Linked DNA regions of Homo sapiens: regions 1, 2, 3 and 5 are each reported to be linked to region 4. The links are microRNA targets in miRTarBase. Many come from high-throughput screens and were not tested one by one. Region 4 holds a microRNA gene; each other region holds the end of a gene's coding sequence.

Region 1 (4,000 bases), not on the chromosome of region 4:
AGATTTGTGTAGGTTTGCTGGGGTCCCTGAGCTGATCTTGGTGTTGGCAAATCTAAGAGGCCTTTGTAGGTCTTTAAACGTCTCTCTGAAATAACTTTGTATTACTGTGTTTCTGTAGGAAGCAAAGATTGCCACTGAAAATCTCTGTTTTTCTAGCCTCCGACTTAATCAAAGGAGCAATCTAAATGGAGTCCAGCCACGGAGTGCCCTTCAGACACCAGCTGAAGGTGGGAAAAAAGAAAAAGAGTACAGTTCCCAGGGACAGCTGTCCTCTGCTTCTCTGTAACTCCAGATTTCCCATGAGAATAGGCCTCTGCCTGTTACCTTGTTCCTTGCTTCTCAGAAAACCTGGAGTTGCACTCTTCACCTCCTAGCCAACCTCCTAATTTAGTTGAGCAGGCACAGAAGGAAAGAAGGACCCTTTGTGAAGAAAAAAATTGAGTTTGCATTTGACTTTTAAGCAGGTGACTTTTGAATACTAGGGCACCTGCTGAGGTGCCCTTTGCAGTACTGCTGCAGAAAAAGAAGGAAAGAAAAGAAAGAAAAGGAAAGGAAGAAAGAAAGAAAGAAAGAAAGAAAGAGAGAAAGGAAAATAAAAGAAAAAAAGAAAGGAAGGAGAGAAGGGAGGGAGGGAGGGAGGGAGGGAGGAAGGAAGGAAGGAAGGAAGGAAGGAAGGAAGGAAGGAAGGAAGGAAGGAACCAGGCACCCACCCAACTTTCTTCCTGGGACAATATCCCCCACCCCACAACATCCAATCTGCCAACTTGTATGCAACAGCAGGTAACCAAACAAATTTAGAAAGGACATTGACACATTCAGCTGCATGATTTAGGGGGTGAAAGAAAACATGACTTTGAAGAAACTTGGATTTGGGGAGGACCCTAATGGATCCTGAGTAATTGCTAGCAGCAGAGCAATATGAGGTTGATTAAGAGATCTTGGTCTCTGTAGGCACAGTGCTTCCCCCTGCATTGTCCACCTCAGGAGTCCAAGTTCAGCCTTGAGTGTAAAGCGGCAGTGGGCAGACTTCCCGGCCCACCATCCTGCAGGTGGCTGGGGACTGCTGGCAGCAAATGGGTGCTCTGGCCTTATTTGGATTTGTAGTTTTGTGTGTTTTTCATACCTGGATCTGAGTTAATTCTTTGTAAAGATTCTTTGTATGCATAAACTCTGTGGCCTCTCAAATCCCTCCTTGTGCCTAGAGTTGACCAGCCCCAGTTTCAGTGCAAACAGAAGCTATAGCACCCTCAAACCTTGGAGAGTGCCTTTTTAGGCCTAGGCAGACCACTTTTAAACTGTTTAAACTTGATCAAAAAACCCAACTGCAAGATGAAACAAGGAGGGTCTGCTAAGTGCCTAGGTATTGGACATCCTAACTGGACATAGCGGCGCCCAATTTCCAGCCAAGCCCAGCTAGCTGAGTTTGTCTCAGCTAAGCAGGCAGAAAATGAGAAGGGCCAGTCCAGACCCTTTTGTTAGAATCAAACAAGACCAAGACCAAGTTTAAAGCAAACTGATGAGCTGGAGAGAAATCTGCAAACCACTTCCTAATTAGCCAAGGTCTGATCAAGGTGCCCCCAGGCAATTTCCACCTGGATTTCACTTTTCTTCCCTCCTTCTTTCCCACCCCTCCTAAATATACATTCCCACATCACTTCACATTTTTAAAAACATTTTTAACTACACTAAGGTTCAACCATCAGAGAAAGTTGGAGGCCAGGTCCAGATGTATTTTAGCTGCTTGTATTACCCCTTTGTCACTGTACTAGGGCAGGAGTGAGGATAGAAATGTGAGGATGCCCAGATAGGAGGTCTGACTCTGGCTACTCAGGAAGTGACCCGGGGGCTGGAGAGGAGTAGGAGCAACCTGGGAACTGTATGCTCCACTAAGTGGCTCCTTCATACAGTCCTGAGCACTGAGCCTGGTGGGGAGCCAGCCTGGCGGGGGGTGAGGGGTGGTGCTTATGACTGACTTAGGCCAGGGTGCTACAAACATTTACTTACATACACACACTCACACACACTCCTAAAGCAGGCAGCGGGCCTCCTCCACACTCTGGGCAGGGTCTCCTATTTTGCAGTCCCAGCTGTCCCAGGGGTGCAGATAAAAGGCTTGGCAGCCAGTCTCAGCCTGAGTTCACCGTTGCAAAGGAACTCCAGGCATCGCAGCACAACGAACTCACTAGGACAAGCGGCTCCGCATGGGGCTGGGGGCTGGACGCCCGCCGCCAGGGACTGAGAAGGCAACGATCAAAGCCGCCACAAGGGTTTGTTAGCTGGCCCTCTCCAAGTCCCCCGGGGGCGTCCTAATTGCTCGTCCCACAGCCTCCCGCTCACAGGCTGTCCGACCTCGCCGGCGCTCAGCCGCGGGCAGCAGAACAGCTGCGAGGCTCGAGGAGCGTCCGCCTGCCGCCCAGCCCCTGCCGGCGTTGTCATCGCTGCCCAGCGCTTCGGACCCTCGCTGCCCCAGGAAGACCCCTAGAAGAAGGAGGAGGGGAGGACAGAGGGATCACCACACCGGTGAAGCTGGGGCCTCTATGCAGGTCAGGACGGCAGCAAAGTTGGCCGCCGACTTAGCCAGCACCCGCAGCCTGCAAGTACAGATTTTCTCCCACAGCCTCCTGGGTTGCTTTGAAACCATCCATTTAAAAAGAAAGGAACTCATACATATCAAATAATGGTTCGGAAGAGGCCAGCACGAAAAATGGAGCTGCTTTTATACAAGCCAACCCAACCTCTTTACGGATTTTGTAAATTCCTAATATTTCAGAAGAAATTTGTTGTTCTAAACCAAGTCAGCACTTCATCATAGTACATTCTGCTTTAGTAAAATCAGCTCCCTTGGATTTCATCACTTGTTAAAAAAAGATAAACTTTATTTTTGTAATTTTCAATCACAAAAAAATCTATATTTTTGTCTAAGCATTTATTTTACTGAATCGAAAAGACATGAAAAGAAAAATCATGTTTTTACTAACGTATATAAGTGACTCTTTTTGGACAACATATAATAAATATGATATATCACTTATCACTCAGTCTTTCAAATGTACATTTTTTTCATATTATGGAGCATGCCACTTTTCCAAAAGAAAAAAGGTCATGAGAAATCAGTGCAAAGTTCTCAGTTACCCTCCTCTTTTCTCTGGGGCAGACGGAATGTCCTCGGCAACGCCCTTTGCCTCAGCACTTGAGGCTGTCCATATATAGTTCACTCTGCCTGTGCTGTTTCCGCTCCGTGCCCTTCTTTCTTCCCTCCTTAGCCCTCCCCCCTCCCTCCCTCCTGCTTGTCCCTAAAGTCATTTTTGAAAAAGAATTTGAGGTTTTGTTTTTGTTGATGTTTTCACTTACTGGTTGCACTCTGTGTGGGGTCAGCATTTTCACCAGTCACACTGCTGTGGGGGAGATTTCCAGCCCTGTTTCTAGGGGTGGGGAGATGGAGAGCAGAGGGCTGGCTCCTCTTTGGGGGTCCCCTGCCCACTGGTAAGCATCTTCCTCTCTTACTCCTCTGCCTTCCAGAGTTGGCTGCAAGGGAGGCCTAGTGGCCTGGAGCAGGGAGAGGACGGGCAGCAGTCCGGGTTGGGCAGGGATATGGGGAAGGGATTGCAGTGCCTTCGCTGCAATGTTTTCACCGGGGGTGTGGGGTGCCTGGGATGGGGCTGGACAATGGATTAAGGGCTGGCTGTCCCCCAGGCCCTAGGCCGTGGATGAGCACACGGGGCACCAGGGGCCGCTGCAGCTGGGGATGGGGTGCTGGAGGAGTCCGGTACATGCTGCTGTACATGGCAGCGGCAGCCGCCGCCGCCGTAGTGCTGTCCATGCTGCCCAGCAGGCTTGGGTGATAGAAATAAGGCGATGGAAACATCCTCTGCAGCGCCGAGTAGTTCCCTGCCTCGGCCAGCAACTCCAGGCCCACCGCTGTCTGCCGCTTCCACTTGGTCCTGAAAGAAAGCGGGTGTGCAGGCACCCAGCAGCTGTGGGCATGGTCCAGGCACCAAGA
Region 2 (4,000 bases), not on the chromosome of region 4:
GTAGAAATCACCCACAGCAGTCATGTCTTTGATGTTGTCTAACTGTTCTCCCTGTTCTGAATTCAGTCAGGACATAAAGGTTTTTAAAGTCTTATTTCCTTATAAAGTGGTTTCCTGGGCCAACCATGCCCGAGTCATAGTGAACCTAACAAGACACCCTTTTCAGTTTAGAGTTCCTGAGAAGGTAATAATAGGTTATATTTGCCTTCTTCAACGTGTCTGACTACTCCCTTGTCTTCCCACTCCCCTCTGCCCTGCTTCACTTCTGCACAGGCTCCCACTGCCCTGGCTCCTGTACACCGTCATTCACAGATTCCAGCCAGTGGCTGTCAGCAGCAATGGCCTTTTCTGTGCCATCGTCCTTCTCTTCATCATGCTGCTCTTCGTCATCCTCTCTATCGCCCTCTGCAAGTGGCGAATGAACAAAATCCTGGGCTTCATCATGTTTGGCCTCTACTTTGTGTTCCTGGTGGTGAGCGTTCTCCTAGAAGACAGAATTCTTACATGCCCCGTCTCCATCTAGCAGGAAAAGCCATATCTTGCACCAGCAGCATGAATGGTCCCTCCACACTCTGGGCTCTGGGCTCCTTGACCTCTTGAGAAGAGGCAGCTGGCACACAGCCCTGGGTGCCAAGTGTCCCTCCTTGGTGAATTTGAGGAGAGATGGATTCACACTGGGCCCATTCACTTCACAGGCTGCTTCCACCCTGCCTACTGAAATGACTTCATGTAAAAGACAAAGAGAACCGTCAATACAGGGCTTCTCCCTATTCACCACTGACAAGTACACCTCGCTGGTCGGAGGTACAGTCGATGCAAACAAGGACACAGGCTATATATATCTATAAATACACATATTATAAATATACGCACATGAACACACAAATCCTGCCTGTTCCTGTACTATACCTCTCCTTGCATACCTATAGATTAGTACATACCTGTAAATAAAGACAAAGAAAAATTATATATATATATATAAAATCAGATATATATAAAAGTACAAATGCATCTTTTCAGGGATAGCTCTAGTATATTTATAGTACTTATTTGAAGAGGGGCATCAACTTGCAGTCTGGGCTTTACCTCTTAAGTACAAGAGGTGAACTAATGGAACCAACAAGACAAAGGTAGCATTGCTGTGACCTTCAGCCTACCTTGGACTTGCTGTGATCCTGCCTAGTAAGGTAGATGGTTTAGGGAAATAGCTTGCAGGGAGGAGGGCTTAGTGGAGAAGGTCTGTAGGGGCCCTGAGTTGAGCCTTCCAAAACATTCCTACAAGCCAAACAGAGAGACTATCTGCCCACCTCCACCAGAGTACCCTGACCAAGAAACTCAGGGTACTTAGGACAGAAAGAGGTAAAAACCCAGGCTGGGTGGCTTGGTTTGGGGAAGTGGGGAGGTAACCAGGGTTGGGTTGTTTTGTTTTGTTCTTATATTGTCCCAGCATGCAAGTAGAAAATATGACTACAAACCAAATTAGTGCTTTTTCTAGGACAGCAAGACTATATAAACTGAACCTGTATTTTTCCAGCGCATGTCCCATTATCATCAAAAGAAGAGGGGTAAGTTTAGCTGTGATTGTCATGTAGATATATTTTGATGCTAAGGGCTGCCAAGAGAGCCTAGATGTGCAATAAGAAGTCATCCAGTAAAGGTGCTTAGTGGGCCTTGCCACCTAATGGGATGTAAGGGCATAGTTCTTTAAAACGTTTTCCAGTGTAGTCATAAAGGGCTTTAGTGTCTGAAGAAATCATTATTCCCAATAGCACTAACTTAACTCTGATCAGCACTGCTTGGGTTGAGGCAACTTAGCGATGCTTGGAAAGGCATTTGCACACTCAGTGCACCCCAGGAAGGTTTCTGAGTGCCAGGTCGAGTGGTACCAGGACCAGGCTTTGGTTAAAGTTCTTGTAACATCTATGTCTCTTCTTCCATCAAGACCTTATCTGGGATTCTGTCTAAGTTTTAGAGTACACGGTATTTGACAGCTTCCTTATACTGGTTTCAAGCTATTCACTCCAACAATTTGATTTCTTGATTTTGCTCAACATTACATTGAATGCATGAAATTAAAATATTCCACGCCCCCAAGTTCTGTATGACACCTTGTGTGTTTTCTCAGATCTATGTCAGTCGAAAATAAAGCCAGCAAGGGGGAAAAAATAGGCAAACTGAATCAATGGAAAACTATGTAGAGCACTTTTCTTTTCTCCAAGTCATGCTTTCCTTAAAATCAGTTGAAAAATTGAATCAAGGATGGTTCATTATTCTGTACCCATCCTACGTCTAAGTTGGTACATATGGCATATGGGAAATTTCACCATATGTGTTCCTATCTCCAATCTATTCTGTCATTGACGCCTGCTATGATTTTGTTGTGAGCACATACCTCTTAACATAAGAGGACAGGATGCAGAACTCACAGCAGAATAAGAGGAAAGGTAACCTGACAGCCCCAGATCAAGCTCAGTATTCCTTCCAGAAAACCTCAGCTCACCCCACAGAGCATGGCAATAACAGGAAATGCCCATCATTCCTCTTCACCCAGAAGTAAAAAGCACTTCAAACCCGAGGCCCCCTGGGAAAACAAGAAATCAAGATGGCTGCCAGTCGGAGGCTGGCTTTCAAGTCTCTCCAACTCGGCAGATTGGGGTCTTCAGATGTGGGACAATGCCTTCCAAGACATTGAAACACCATCCAATAGAGGCGCTGAGTGGAACCTGCCACCTAATGGGAATGAATCTCATTCATCAAGGTCAGGACTTTGTACTGGGGCAAGAATTTGTCCTGCTTCCTTAGAGAGTGAAAGAATGAGGAAGTGAACTTTACGTTTAAAAACTCCAGTTGTTTTCCCTGTGTATTTCTTGAAGGGCAACCAAGTTGGTTATTGTGTGAATTTTATATTATTGACTGGTGCGTTGTTTGAAATAAGGTTTAAATAGGTGACTGACTCAACTGCAAACAGACCATGTAAAACAGAAGTTGAAGGAGACCTGATGCCGCCCTCTTCTTATTCCTGATCCTCCCTCTGCCTCCTCACTCCCTCCCATTTATTCCCAGCTTACAGTGAAGGCTGATCAAAGCAGCTATGGTGCCCTTTGCTTGTCTCGGAGCTCCACTTCACAGGAAGTGTTGTGGTCTTTCATGTGAAGTTGCATTTGAGAAGACAAAATTTCCAAGCCCCGTTCCCACATCAGTCATGTGCACTGAGCCTGACCTACAACAGCACTGCTCCCTCACTGGATGGGACACAAGTGATTCCACAGCCTGCCCTTGCTTTCCCTTCATTTCTGTGTCTGTAAGTGGTTATGTGTTGAGCCAGGGTAAATTCAGAGAGATGTGTACAGAGTTCAACAATGGGTCTTTAAACCATTCAAATCATTGGCATAATTATAAGAACTTTCCACACCGTGGTTTCCAAAACAGGTCATCTCTAACTCGTTTCCTGCATGCCTGTGTATATACATATATAAATATATACATATATATATATATACATATATATATATATATATATATCTTTATACCAGATCTATATGTACACATATAATATGACTTACATCATCACCCTCTGACCCTATCACATTCAGGATTCTAAAGCAGGGAGCATCAAGTTTGCCAAAGTCAAGGAAAAGGAAAGTCATGCACACAAACCAAAGGGAACATTTCTTCCTGATTTCATAAGGTTGTTTGTTCCATGCACATATATTTACAAATATACACATATGTACCCATATTTTCCCACCCTAAGAATATCAATTTATAGCCTTAAGGAAATCGGTCAGCCATATCCCTAATGCTGATATAGAGGCAAAGAATACACAACAGAAAATACAAAGCAAAAATTTAGACTGCAGATACTCTCTTTGCTTCTCTGGAGCAGGGTATAAAAGATATCAACAATTCAAGAGCCAACATTGTACTAATCAATCTAAAATAAATGAGTTGCACGCAAATGATTTCATTTATTCACAGCAAACCGAGCAGGTCTTGCTTG
Region 3 (4,000 bases), not on the chromosome of region 4:
TGATGGCATCGGTGAACAGACTCTTGACATTAGGATACATCCGACCGGCCTAGCTGCAGTTGCTGGGCCACTGACCCAATTCCCTTTGTCCAGTCTCTTGAACCCTCTGTTGTAGACTGGGTTTCTCTAGAAACAGACAATGAGACTGAGTTTGGGTTGCAAGATGTTTATTAGGAATAAGCACCTGTGAAAAGAAGAGGAAGAAGAGGAAGCAGGCCTGGGCATAGGAAGTCAAATTGTGCTGCAGGCCTGACGAAGCCCTGGCTGGCCTGGGCCTGCTGGGAGTACTGTCTGTCAGTGTCCGTCCCATGTTGGATTGAAATGACCAGGTGTTTATACCATGCCTCACTCAGACACCAGATACAGGCTGCCCCAGGAAGGGCGTGGTCTCAGGTGAAGTGGCTCTCTGCAGCTGCGGCCACCCTGATGGCACTTCCCATAGCTGGGGAAGTCCTCCCTTGAAGGGAGTTCTGGGGGCAGCTGTCCCTATCTTCCACACCTTCTCAACTCTACCTCCTCTTACTTCGCCAGCTTGCTTTCAACCAGAGAAGCTGAGAAGAAGCAGTCACTGTAATTTCCACACTCAGCCCTGGCTCCTACTGGGAAAACAGAGGCTTTGTCCCAGCTTAGGAATACACTGGATCTGACAGATGAGAATTAGGGGGAGGGGTGTCAGAGGGACAAAGGAGGGAAAAGCCTTGGACTCAGTTGTAAAACACCAGTCAGAACCTCAAAGACAAGAATCACTAGACTTCTGTTGCTCTTTGGTCATTCAGTTAATCTACTCTGCAGGCCAATGTGCGCCAGGCACTGGGACCAATCCCACCACTCCAGGCCCTCAGCTGGGGGCCTAACACAATCTGCAGATTCAAACAGGGAGGGAGAGGCAGCACCCCGAAGCCATGCTTCACCAGGAAGCAGAACCAAGCCCTGTCTCTGACCCTGGCTGCTTGCAGGCCCTCCTTTAAGTTGCTTTCCTGCCTGACCCCGTTTCCTCCTCTGACAATGGAGTAACACGATGGGCACCATGGTGAATGCTTCTCACCTCAAACTTCATTTCATCCTGTGAAGCAGCTATTATTATTATCCCCACGTTATACATATGGAAAGAGTCACACGGGTGCTCAGTGGTGGAGCTGGGCTTTGAGTCCAGACAGTGTGGCCCAATCTTGCTTCTTAGTCCTCATTAAAGGCACAGAAAGGCATGGCCAAGCCAGCCCCCTCGGACCAGACCTGCCTGCATACTTGTTTCATTTGGCCCACAGAAATTTTAAAATATGAGTCTCATTTTGAAATTAAGATGACTCAGAAACATCCATCCAGCTTTTCTTGAAAAATCTGGCCACCTGGCCACTGTGGACTGCATTCCCACAGGGTCACAACTGGCAGGAGGTAGGCCCCTTGAAGTGGGTCATGACACCACTGTCCACCCAGAGTCACTCGTCTATGTTACCTGCCTGGTCCCTACAGGGATGAGTTTGCTATTCTTCATGAAGGCCAGGGAGTCCTGACATAGAGGCCTAGACAGGCAAGGTGGCTTGCCCTGGGACACCCAGCTCGGGCCCAAATCACACGGACTTGAATCTGGCAAACTGTTTAGGGAGGGTTGAGGAAGAGCACAGACATGCAGAACCACAGGGCAAGGTCGGGGCAAATACACTTTATTCAGTCCTGGCATCAGACTGGCGGAGTCCTGCTGTGGGTGCCAGTGCCCCAGACAGAGGGACCCCACCCCTCAGCTACGAGACTAGTTCTCCAAGACCACAGACAGTGACATCTCTTCACTCACATGACGTTTTTTTTTTCATTGTCTTTTTTTGTTGTTGTTGTTTTTCTTAAAAAAAAAAAAAAAAAAAATAGAGCGCAAGAAAGGCCCAGAGCCGGAGCACCAAGCTTAAAGGAGGCAGCTGGTGGCTTTGTCAGCGACGGGAACGCGTGGGGCAGAGACCTGCAGAGACCCTGGGCAGGGGTCCGGAGGACTCTGGGACCGTTTGTTCCTGAGATTTGTGTGTGTGAATGAGAGTGTGTGAGCCACCCGGGAGGGTGAACACACGCCGGTGAGATACAGGTAGTGAGGGCAAGGGGGGTGTGGGGAGGCCGGAGGGGCGGGGCGGGGCAGAGAGATGGCGGCGTGAGAGGGGCCACAGCAACAGGGACAGGGCTCCCGAGGGCACCCTGAACTGGACACAACTTCCTCCTAACAGCAGCGTTCTCCCCATTTCTCACGTGGAAAAACCGAGGTGCAAACGGCCCATCACTACTCGGAATCCATTCTCAGTCTCACTGGCCAAGTCGATGGTCTCTCCCAAACCAGATGTTTAAAAGCGAGAGTCTTCCTGCCATCACATCTGCTCTCCACGCCTCAGTCCCAAACCCCTAGCACCAAAGTGCCTCAGTTTTTCCCGCTGTATACTGCAGCTTGAGTACTGAGGGTGGACCTGGGTGACAGGAAGGGCCGGTGCGCTCAGGGAGGAGCCCAGGTTGCGGGTGCCCTGAGGTGAGGGGGCACTTCCCAGGAGGGGGTGGGGAAGGTGCAGCAGGGATCCTGTCCCCAGACAGACTGGTAAGGTGCCTTGGTTTTTAGTTTTCTTGGGTGGTCCCTTCCTCTACTGCTGGATTTCCAGAGAAAGACCTTACCTCTCAATTCCCAGTTGGGGGGAAAAAGGGACGTATAGGTAGGCTGTAGAGGCAGCCACGCGACCGGAGAGGTGGTGCGCGTGGGTGTAGGAGACCCCATACCGGAAAAGGGGCTATGCCACTTGGGAGAGTTTCAGGCCCAAACCAACCCTTCCGAGTGCTCCTCCCATTAAGGCAGCGACGCCCCGTTGGCTGGAGAGGAAACCTAGGGCTCCCGGATCAAAGGATTTCCCAGGATCGCTCTACACTCGCCCCCGCTTTTGCCCGGAGCGGGCGAAGAGTGCGGCTCCGCTGGGACCAGCCCCCTCCTCCCCAGAAGCATTAAGCATGCGCACGAAGGGGGTGGGCCCCAGCGGAGGGGCGGGCCCTAGCGCTCCGGGGATAAAAGGGGTGCGCCCCTCCCCCCAGGGAAGGGAGGGGCGCAGGAGGCGCGTGCGTTGCCACCCGGCCGCATCGCCCCCCTAACCCAGAGAAGGCGGGCCGGGCGAGGGAGGAGAGATTCCGGAGCAAAGGAGGGGGCGGGTCCTCCGGCCACGAGGAGGGGCGTGTGCAAAAGGGGGGAGGGGTGCAGGTCTGTAGGAGAGGACGGGAGGTGTATCGGAGGGGGCTGGCTGCTGGTGGCTGTGCAGGAGGGGGCGACGTGGGGAGGGGCTTGGGTGTCGGGGAAGGGGTGGGGGTTGGGCTGCCTTGGGGTGTGTCTGCGGGGGAGGGGCATGTCTGGATCTGAGGGGGGATGGGCACGTCCAGGAGGGGGCAGGCTGCGCGGGAGATGGGGTGCCAGCCTCGGCCTCCGAGGGGCCCCAATACCTGATTCCTGTATGTAAACAGCTGGTTTGGGGGCGTGCGCGCCCCGCTGACGGTGGGCTCAGTAGGTGAAAACCAGGTCTGCGATGCTAGACGGGCGCCAGTCCCCCGCGATCATCTCGGTAACCTCGGGGGTGCAGTAGTCCGGGAACTCGAAGTGCGACGTGCCCGAGGGAGGCTGCAGGTCCGGGTCGCGATCCAGGGCGCTGCAGTCCAGGCCGGCCGGGCCAGGGGGCAGCCTGGACAGAAAGCCCAGCGACTCCTCCCCCGACGCCACCGTCTCCTCTTCACCTTCCTCAGCCGCTGCCGCCTCCTCCTCCTCTTCCTCCGGCTCCTCGTCCTCCGACGGTGTCGGGGAGGCGGCGGCGGCGGCGGCCGCCCCCTCGCCCGACGGCCCTTGGGCGCGCTCCGCTTGTCCCCGAGCGGCCCGTCCCGCCGGGACCATCCTCCACAGCTCCCGCCCCGGGGTCTCGACCAGGCGCACTTCCAGCAGCTCCTCGTCGTCGTCTTCATCGTCGTCCTCGGGCGCCGCCGCCCCGCCCCCCAAAGGCCCTCCCGC
Region 4 (4,483 bases):
AGGAGAAGCTCTCATTGCCTAAGGCAATGGGCTAATCCACGGGTTGCACAGTGGGCTGAGCTCCATGCTCAACCTCAGGAGAGGGAGCCAAGTTGGGTGGGGCTTCTCTGGGCAGGCCCACCTACAGGTCCCCCAATGGCAGGCACAAGCGCCAACACCGGGGAGAATCCAGTGCCAGCCACAAAGTGCCCAGACATATGCCTAGGTGTGGCACTAAGAAACCTCCTTGGCTCCAAGTTTTCTACATGAGTATGGGTGTCATCTAAACACCGAACCCAGGAGAGTGAGTTCTCCAGATGCCTGAAGATCTACCTAGGTGTGAAGTGTAGAAGGCTTTGCTTCATCACAATCTCTGTACAAGAAGGGTAGAGTGGCTCAGGCTGCTGTTTCAAGTGAGTGGGTGCTCTAAATGCCTGGAGATCTGCCTGGGATAGAGCAGGGAAAGCCCCACTGCACGATGATCTATGCACAGGTAGGGAGGGGTGGGTGAGTCTGCTGATATACCAGATAAGCAGGTGCTCCAAATGCCCGGAGATTTGCCTGGGCATGGAATGGATAGGGCCTTAACATACCATGATCTCAAGGGTGAAGGCTGGGATACCCAGCAGTGACACAAGCCACCAAGCTGGCCCTGGCTTCATGTCACCAGCTAGAAGAAACTGCAGCAGTAGCAGCTCTTCTCTAGCCCCAGGCTTGTGATGGGGGAGGGCATAAATCCAGCACCTACTGCTGAGGAACTTCCCACAGTTCTATCTGTGGAGGCCCCCGTCCCACTCGAGAGCAAGCACTCCAATCTCTGGTTCGAGATTAAAATACCTGTGAGGCCACACTGATGGGTTACTAAAGAGTGACTGACATTTTATGCATCTGAATTAAAAATGGTATCCTGCTCTTGGTCCCGGGTCTTGGAAGATGCCTGCAACTTTTCCCAGTGTCTCTCTCTCTCTCAGTGTCTCCAACCTTTTCCCCAGGATAGCTCCAGGGCTTTGGAGAAATAAAGTGCTCTCCCATGTCCTGGGTTGCTCAGATTCCCAGTGCAAAAGCAAGTCACAGAGGTAAGCTTTCTGCCAATCTCACCAACTGAGGCTTAACTCATTTTTATCAGCCAGACACCATCACTGCGACAGTTTGCCCACCTTTTTCCCAGGATCTGGGATGTCTTTCACAATTGCAGTGGTTTCCTGTTTGTCTTCTTGAATTAAAGCTCAGAGAGTAGATTTTTATGCACTATTTTGCTATTTCCAAGTAGCTGAGGCACACTAAAAGCCTCTAATCTGCCATCTTGGGGAAAAAAAAAAAAAAACTTGTATTTTTCACTACAAAATTTTTAGTCTTTACCTCTGGAATTTGATTTGTATATTTTTTGGTATCTACCCTGTCATAGTTATAACTATGATAATATCCTCATCCTTTAACATCTGTGTCAGTCGTGAATTGGTTTTGTCTAAATGTTCTCCTGAATATTGTTTTCATTTTCTTGCTTTTCAGCTTGCAAAATAATAATAAATACTAAACATTAAGGATTTTGTACTTTAGGGGACAGATTTTTAATATTCTTTTTAAAAAACAGTCAAAAGTTTCATTTTGGTACTCACTTAAGTCAATTAGATAGAGTGTGTTTCTTATATGTCTTGCTAATTTTTATAAATCAAGAACAGTGTAGCATTTAGCATAGTGTTAAATTATCCTTCTAAGGCAAGAACCTTCTGTGTTCTCTACCTAATGCCTCATGAATTTCTCGATTCTCTTTGGAACAGGCACTTGTCCCAGCACCTGTTTAAGCACTAGTCACTATTTCCTCTAATAATAGAGTCTGACGTGGTTCCTTCTCAGGCCTGATACAGTTACTGTGCATGCATGAGCTTGTCAACACTCAGCTGAATATTTGAGGAGACTCCTCTGTTGATCTCTAGAGTTCTCGCTCTTTGTAGCATTCCTTTCTCTGCCCTGGTAACTCTAGTCACCTTCTTATTCCTCAACTCTTAGTTTTGTCTCCACAACACGGGAATTCAAAGGTCTCCAACTGAATGCTATCTCCCTGTGCTGCTGCCTAGAAATTCACCGCACTGAATTGGAAGAATTTTTAGGATTTATTTGTTTCTCATCTTTCAGAGATTACTTTTTTTTTTGTTTTCAAGCAACCAGTGCCTTGTTAGCCATTGTATCATGTTTTGGTTTTTTCAAGCTGTAACATACATTCATCCTTATTGCTCAATCTTGCCCAGAAGTAGAAGTTCCAATGTATTTTTTAAATGGATGAAATCATTTGGAATCATACTAGTTACAAGGTTGAAGGAAACAGTCTCAATTACATTGCCTAGAATAACAGATTGTAACATTTTTGTTATAATAGTTAAATAGTTTGAACATCTAGGCTGTCAAGTGTAACAACGAATCTCTGTCTTGGTGCAACAAACTGTTCTGAAGTAACCACTTTGAAGAGTTGGGCCTTCTCAAAGCCTGAAGTTGTGAAAGTAATTTCTGATTCAACAACCAGCTAAGAATGACTAGAAATTATCTATTCAATATAATAAAATATTGTGAGTGTTTTGTAAAATTATCACAGAAGAGAAGAAGCTGGTGTGTAAAGCAGAAGAGTTTTAAAATAGGAAAATCAAAGTTCCAACATTTTAAGTGAAATAGTAAAAGATATGTGACCTTGTTTTGTACCTTAGGCTGATTAAGTGTAATGATCATTACACAAATAATCATTCATGGATTTTTATTTATATAGTTTGGAATTTTTATTTATATATATAGTTTGACATTTTTTATTTAAGTATGTAGTATAGTTTCTGCAATGCTCAAATCTCTGGCCAAAGACCAGAACTTAATGGTCTCTGGTAAGAGATTTGGGCATATTAGAAACTAAACTAATTACCCCAAAATGTCAGAGATAGACATTATTACGTTCTCACTGGAGTCTCTGGCTTTTTAAATACATTTTTAATTTTTTTTCTTTTTTTTGTTATCAGATATACTGAAAATTCAGTTAAGCCACACTCAGTGGGGCATAAAGTATGAGTTCATGAGTATCTGCACTAGGACAAATAAAATAAGCATCTCACTAATGTAATTATCATCTGTCTATTTAAAACCTATCACAATATTTGAAATATACTAAACACTAAATAAATGTTTGCCGATTGAGTGAATTAGCAGAAGGCATGTTAGAACATGGGCTATTGATGGGGTTTTTAACAATAAGTGATATAAAAAGGTTACTTGGTGAGAGAAGCTCAAAATCACAAAAGACTTCAAAAGTTAGAGATATGATTAAAAGACTAAGTAATGGGAATAATTTATTTGGAAAGAGAGAGAGGTGAGAGAGAGTTAGTATTGTTTGTGTCAATGTCCACTTGCTTTTCATAACAGTTCCATTTCATAGGATAATGTACAAAAATATTACAAATTATACATGAGAAGGTAAATTTACTTTTGCAAAGTGTTTTAGCAACATGTATGTTACATAGAAATTATTTACAACAAAGAATATGTGTGCAGAGGGAACATTTTGGGTAAAAGCATAGGCTGATTTCTTCATGGACCTGTGCAACCTCTAAACCTTCCTTCCTTTATGAATGCACTGAAATCCTACACATAGGACTTTGACTTCATAATGGATTCTGAGAGCAGTAATTCAACTTATGTTATAAATAACTGATCTCTCTGACCTCATCTTGAATATAGTTCTTAAAAGTATTTACTGAATTAATGGATGTTTAGGACAGAGGCCTTAACCAGAAGGGAGACAGGAAAGGGGAGAAGGAGAAGAAAAGAAGGAGGGAGGGAGGGAAAGAGAGAGATAGTAAGACATCAGGACATGCTGAAAGCCAGTGGATGAGATAAAAATCATGAAACCATATCATGGTAGAAAGATAAAACAAAAGGGAGACGCTGGAGCTGCACTGTCCATTACTGCAGCCAATAGGCAGGTGTGGCTAATGAGCATCTGACATTTGACTCCTCCCAATTGAGATTTGCTATGAGTGTAATATATACAGTAAATCTGAAAACTTATTAAAAAAAACCTTGTTAATGACTTCATATTGAATATACCATCATGAGCCACATTACAAACTGTTGGTCAACAACTGATTGCATGTATAACGGTAGCTTCATAAAATTATAATAAGGTAATTTTACTGTGCCTTTTCTATGTTTAGATGTTTAGATACGCAAGTATTTATCATTGTGGTACAACTGCCTATAGTATTCAGTACAGTAACATGCTGTATAGATTTGTAGCAATAGGCTATACCATATACCCTAGGTGTAGGGTAAGCTATCCCATCTAGGTTTGTGTAAGTACACTCTCTGATGTTTGCACAATCATGAAATTACTTAACAATGCATTTCTCAGAACGTATCCCTGTCATTAAGTGATGGATGACATACATTGAAAACTATGTTTTGGACATATTGGGGTAAATTAAATAACTATTGAAATGAATTTTACCAGTCTTTTCACTTTTATAGCATA
Region 5 (4,000 bases), not on the chromosome of region 4:
CCTAGGTTTTATTCTTGGGGTTTGCTTTTCTTGTGTAGGAGATGTGGCCCTGATATTTCAGGCAGGGCTAGTAGATAGATTATGTATGAAGGTGGTTCTCAAAATTTGGCAGGTAGCAGAATCATCGGGGCGTCTTATTAAAATAGCGATTTCTCTCAGCATTCCTGCATTGGTGGTGGGGCGGGGGGAGAGGAAACCTGAGAATTTGTAGTTTTCAAAAGTTCCCAAATAATGCTGATGCAAATAATCTGAGGACCACATTTTGACAACCACTGGTGAAAGGGTATGAATACATCTTTGAGGCAGTAGCCACTAGAGGTTTAGAAGCAGATGTGGGAAAGATTAATTGATAGAGCTAGATAATATGTTTTGGGTCATTTTCCTGCAGAAGGTTGGGCCACTAGGCTTTAGTGAGGTGTGAGCCTTGGGCCTGGTTCTGCTGGAGTATTAAGGGGTGAGGCCTGATCTGCTGGAGAAAGGATGGAGTTAAGGGAATGAGCCACCTGGGGCCCTAGTGTCTCCTGTCTCCTTCCTTTTACAGGTGCTGGGCCTGGTGCGAGTGCCCCTGTATACCCTGCGGGATGGTGTAGGAGGCCTGCCTACCTTCCTGGAGAATTCCTTTATTGGCTCTGCGCGGGAGCAGTTACTTGAAGCTCTCCAGGACTTGGGACTGCTGCAGTCTGGCTCTATTTCAGGCCTTAAGATTCCAGCTCATCACTAGAGGCAGCCCTCCATGGACCCATGAAAACTGAGATGAGGACCTTGGTACTAGGGAGGGAGGGAAGGACGTGGGAATGTTTTCTTATTGGATCTGAGAGATGATACATGATACCAGATGAAAAGAAGGAGAAGTGTGTACCATATGTTTTGAGCAGAGGACCCTCCAACTTATGGCATCAGGGGCAAAAAGTCACAGCTTATCCCAGGCACCCTGGCAGGTTCTCAGAGCCTGCCTCCTCCCTGTTTATATGCGTACAGCCTGGTAACCCCCAGGCATGCAAATATACAATCTGTAACAACACACAGCCTGACACCTTCCCCTGGTCATGTCCAGTTTAACCTTGAAGTGGCATTTGTCACACTACCCTGGTCCCTGATTGCAAGGAGCTTCTGAAGCAAGGGTGAATCCTTCCCACACTCCTCCATGGTTGCCCTCCAGGGTCTAGCCCAGCCTATTTGTTAGGGAGGATAGAGAAACAGAGCACCCCCTGTGCTTTCTGAAAATAGACTTGCTCTTGTCTTGAGTGGTGACCAAAGCAGTTGGCTCTTAAAAGGTGGGAGAGCAGCCCAACCAATCCCCAATCCTTTTCTTCTGAAACTGAGCAGGAAGGGTAAGGAAGTGGCTAGGTCTCCTTGGACTGAGCATGGACATGAGTCCTGTGAGGACTGGTGTCTCTCCTCTAGAGCTTTCATCTTTGGGATGCCTGAGACTCCGAGACTATCAGAAGGGAATTGACCCACCCCAGTCTAGCACCACCCTGCCTTCACTTCATCTACATAAAGGTGGTATAAAAACATAGACTGGAGGAGGTAATCCATGGAGAGAGAAAAAGAAGAGGGCTCAGGACAAGGCCCTGAGGAGGCCCAATCCTAAAAGTTTGGGCAGAGGGAACCAGGCACGTTAAAGAAGACAGAAAGCGGACTATGCAGAGTGCTTGTGAGGGTTTCACTAAAACAGAGGCAAAACTGTCCATTGAATTCAGTAACATGAAGTGTTTGATGACTATGATGGCAGCAGTTTCAGGAAGGGCGGTATGGAAGGCAGGCTGTACTGGTTGAGTGAATGGAAAGTTGGGGAGTAGAACGTGTGAGAAGTTGGCCTTCAAGGGGCTCAGGTTAATAATAGAGAGCTATGGAGTCAAGGCATGTTTAAGATGGGAGGTAGAGCATGCCAATATTGATGGCAACAGTCAAGATGGTGTGATGAGAGAGATGGGAGGGGCACAAAGAGGAGGACCCCTGAAGGAGCAGAGTCCATGAGAAAGAAGGAGGGATGGGACCTTTGTAGGAAGAGACACAGTCCTGCAGCCTCATATGGCTCAATAAAACAGAAAGGGGCAAGTATAGAAGATTAGGATGACTAAATTAATGGGGAAATGATGAAGGAGTTTGAATCTCTTCTTTGTGAAATGAAGTGAGACTATCAGCTAGTTGTGGGTGGAGTGTGTTCTCAGAAGGTATGAAGTAGATGTTTTCCTAGGTGTTGGAAAACAGGTTGATTAAGGCAACAGCAGAAGGGCAGGGCAAGGCTGAGCTCTGAGATGGTCAGTTTAGAGTAGGATGCTGGGCACTCAGGTGTGTGTGTGTTGAGTGGGGCTCTGCACACACCTGTCTTCCCCTCATCAGGATTCAGGAGCTGGGATGGGTACACTTACTGCAGTGTTGGGGTTTTGCCAGGGAAGTAAAAGGAGTTGAGAGAAAGATGGGTCAGTTCAGAAGACATACACAGGAGAAATTGTAGTGATGAAATGTGCAGTCTAAGGTTTAATCTGACCAAGAAATTGGAATTGAAAACAGGAGGTGACTAGGGAGGGATTAGGAAATTAGAGGTCTTGACAAGATAGAAACTCCAGCATGGTGAGGGGTTGGGCAGGGAGGTATATTTGAGCCAGACAGGAGTGCTTTGGAAATTGAGAGGTGGAGCAATCTCAGGTAAAGGCAAAATAGAGGGTATGACCTGGGGTTGCTGGCCAGAGCCAGGGAGGAGCCTTAAGAAGTGAAATCTAGGGTTGGCGAGGCTGGAGGGCAGGGTGAGCCTCCACATGGGTGCTGAAGCAAGAAACCGACAGATGTTGAGGAGAATGGTGTGACCTAGGAGTCAGCATCCTTGGTGAACAAGAGGAGTGGCCACAAGGCCAGTGGCACCTGCCAGAGGGGAAAGCAGGCATGACAGGATAGCATCTCCCAGGTGAGAGCCTTTTGAGGAAGGGAGGGTGGGCAGTGGTCTGGAAGCTTGATGCAGAGCAGTGTGGGTCCCACTGGCAGCCCTTGGTCTTAGAAGAATGGGAGTACCCAGTGGGGGAGCAGCTGTACAATGAGGTAGACTCCTAGAGGTTAATTATCATCTCCTAATCTTACCCTGACCCTTTTGTCAAACGTTATCTAGATTAAACCTCAGTATAGGCAGGCTGCAGGAAATGGACATTCCAGTGGCCCCTGGGGTTCCAGCCTGTAGCAGCTTCATCTGTGCTTTGTGCACTTGGTTCTCAGTCATCTCTGCAAGGGACCCTGACGCCTGGGAGATCAGAGCCACTGACCCTTTATGGCACTGCTAACAGACCCCTTCCCTCAGGTAATTCTGGATCCAGAACTCATTATGGGATGTAATCCAGGTCAACACTAATACCACTTGGAAGGTTCCGCTCTGTCTCACTCTGCTTGAGTATCCCACTGATCAGTCTCTCAGTGCCTGCCTACTGGGCAGCTCATCTGTCCACTTATTCGTATTAAATTTGCTTTTTATTTAGGTCTCTGGAGATGGTTGCGTGGGGAAGAGCCCATGACTTTCCTATATGATCCCTTGAACATACTCTCCAAGTCAGTAGATTACCTCTCAGGCAGCCTTCATAAAAGTGTTTCACTGTACTGGGGTTTGTGTTCATCTCACTCACATAGACAGTCTCTGGGTAGGCAGGTGGGGGGTGATACAAGTTCACACTCTGTGTTTCTCCTCCTGTTAGCCATTCCCACCCTGCTGATGTTTAAGGAAAGCCAGGGATGATGACCCACTTAAGCTTTCCTTGGCCTTGTTAAGTCCAATCATCTGGGGCAGGAAGAAGAGAAATGCTCATTGCAATCTTTGACCCCCACTAACTGCTGTGGTGACTTTGACCCAAGCCCTTGACCTCCTTTTCCTTATCTGAAATGTTGCTGTGATTCCTGTGGTGAGATCAGATGAGGCAGCACTTGGGATAAGCTTGCAGAGATGCATTGAGCGGTATGAAAGTACAGGATGCTATGTACTTTCCTGCTTCACAGCACATTTTGTTTCTTGCAAGGT

The links. The annotated mature microRNA hsa-miR-4490 reads UCUGGUAAGAGAUUUGGGCAUA and lies in region 4 at 2,840-2,861, shown strand. An mRNA with a match to its seed (bases 2 to 7 or 8) in the 3' UTR can be bound and repressed. Matches are read on the target gene's strand: a 7mer-m8 pairs with bases 2 to 8, a 7mer-A1 pairs with bases 2 to 7 and ends in A, and an 8mer does both.
Region 1: miRTarBase lists BARHL2 as a target of hsa-miR-4490. Seed matches in the 3' UTR shown: 7mer-m8 at 3,481-3,487.
Region 2: miRTarBase lists SLC24A2 as a target of hsa-miR-4490. Seed matches in the 3' UTR shown: 7mer-A1 at 3,528-3,534.
Region 3: the mRNA of SOX12 is a reported target of hsa-miR-4490. Seed matches in the 3' UTR shown: 7mer-m8 at 2,561-2,567.
Region 5: miRTarBase lists NUDT16 as a target of hsa-miR-4490. Seed matches in the 3' UTR shown: 7mer-A1 at 830-836.

What each region holds. Positions count from the first base shown.
Region 1 is chr1:90,708,684-90,712,683 of GRCh38, forward strand. BARHL2 (BarH like homeobox 2) reads right to left here. Exons shown (of 3, transcript NM_020063.2): 3 at 2,856-3,941. The coding sequence ends at 3,629. Among named protein-coding and RNA genes, the nearest start is that of BARHL2, 6.6 kb to the right of the region's middle. RefSeq lists an enhancer at 2,301-2,869.
Region 2 is chr9:19,512,676-19,516,675 of GRCh38, reverse strand. SLC24A2 (solute carrier family 24 member 2) reads left to right here. Exons shown (of 11, transcript NM_020344.4): 11 at 274-4,000. The coding sequence ends at 523. The region is part of intron 4 of LOC105375988 (a long non-coding RNA gene); the gene reads right to left. Among named protein-coding and RNA genes, the nearest start is that of MAP1LC3BP1, 51 kb to the right of the region's middle.
Region 3 is chr20:326,375-330,374 of GRCh38, reverse strand. It overlaps SOX12 (SRY-box transcription factor 12), which reads right to left. Exons shown (of 1, transcript NM_006943.4): 1 at 151-4,000. The coding sequence ends at 3,503. Among named protein-coding and RNA genes, the nearest start is that of SOX12, 2.8 kb to the right of the region's middle. RefSeq lists silencers at 2,934-3,223, 3,264-3,333, 3,694-4,000.
Region 4 is chr11:90,554,163-90,558,645 of GRCh38, reverse strand. It overlaps MIR4490 (microRNA 4490), which reads left to right and starts at 2,789; the gene lies at 2,789-2,872. All of the region lies in intron 2 of DISC1FP1 (DISC1 fusion partner 1), which reads right to left.
Region 5 is chr3:131,382,621-131,386,620 of GRCh38, forward strand. It overlaps NUDT16 (nudix hydrolase 16), which reads left to right. Exons shown (of 3, transcript NM_152395.3): 3 at 542-4,000. The coding sequence ends at 721. Among named protein-coding and RNA genes, the nearest start is that of NUDT16, 2.8 kb to the left of the region's middle. RefSeq lists an enhancer at 1-162.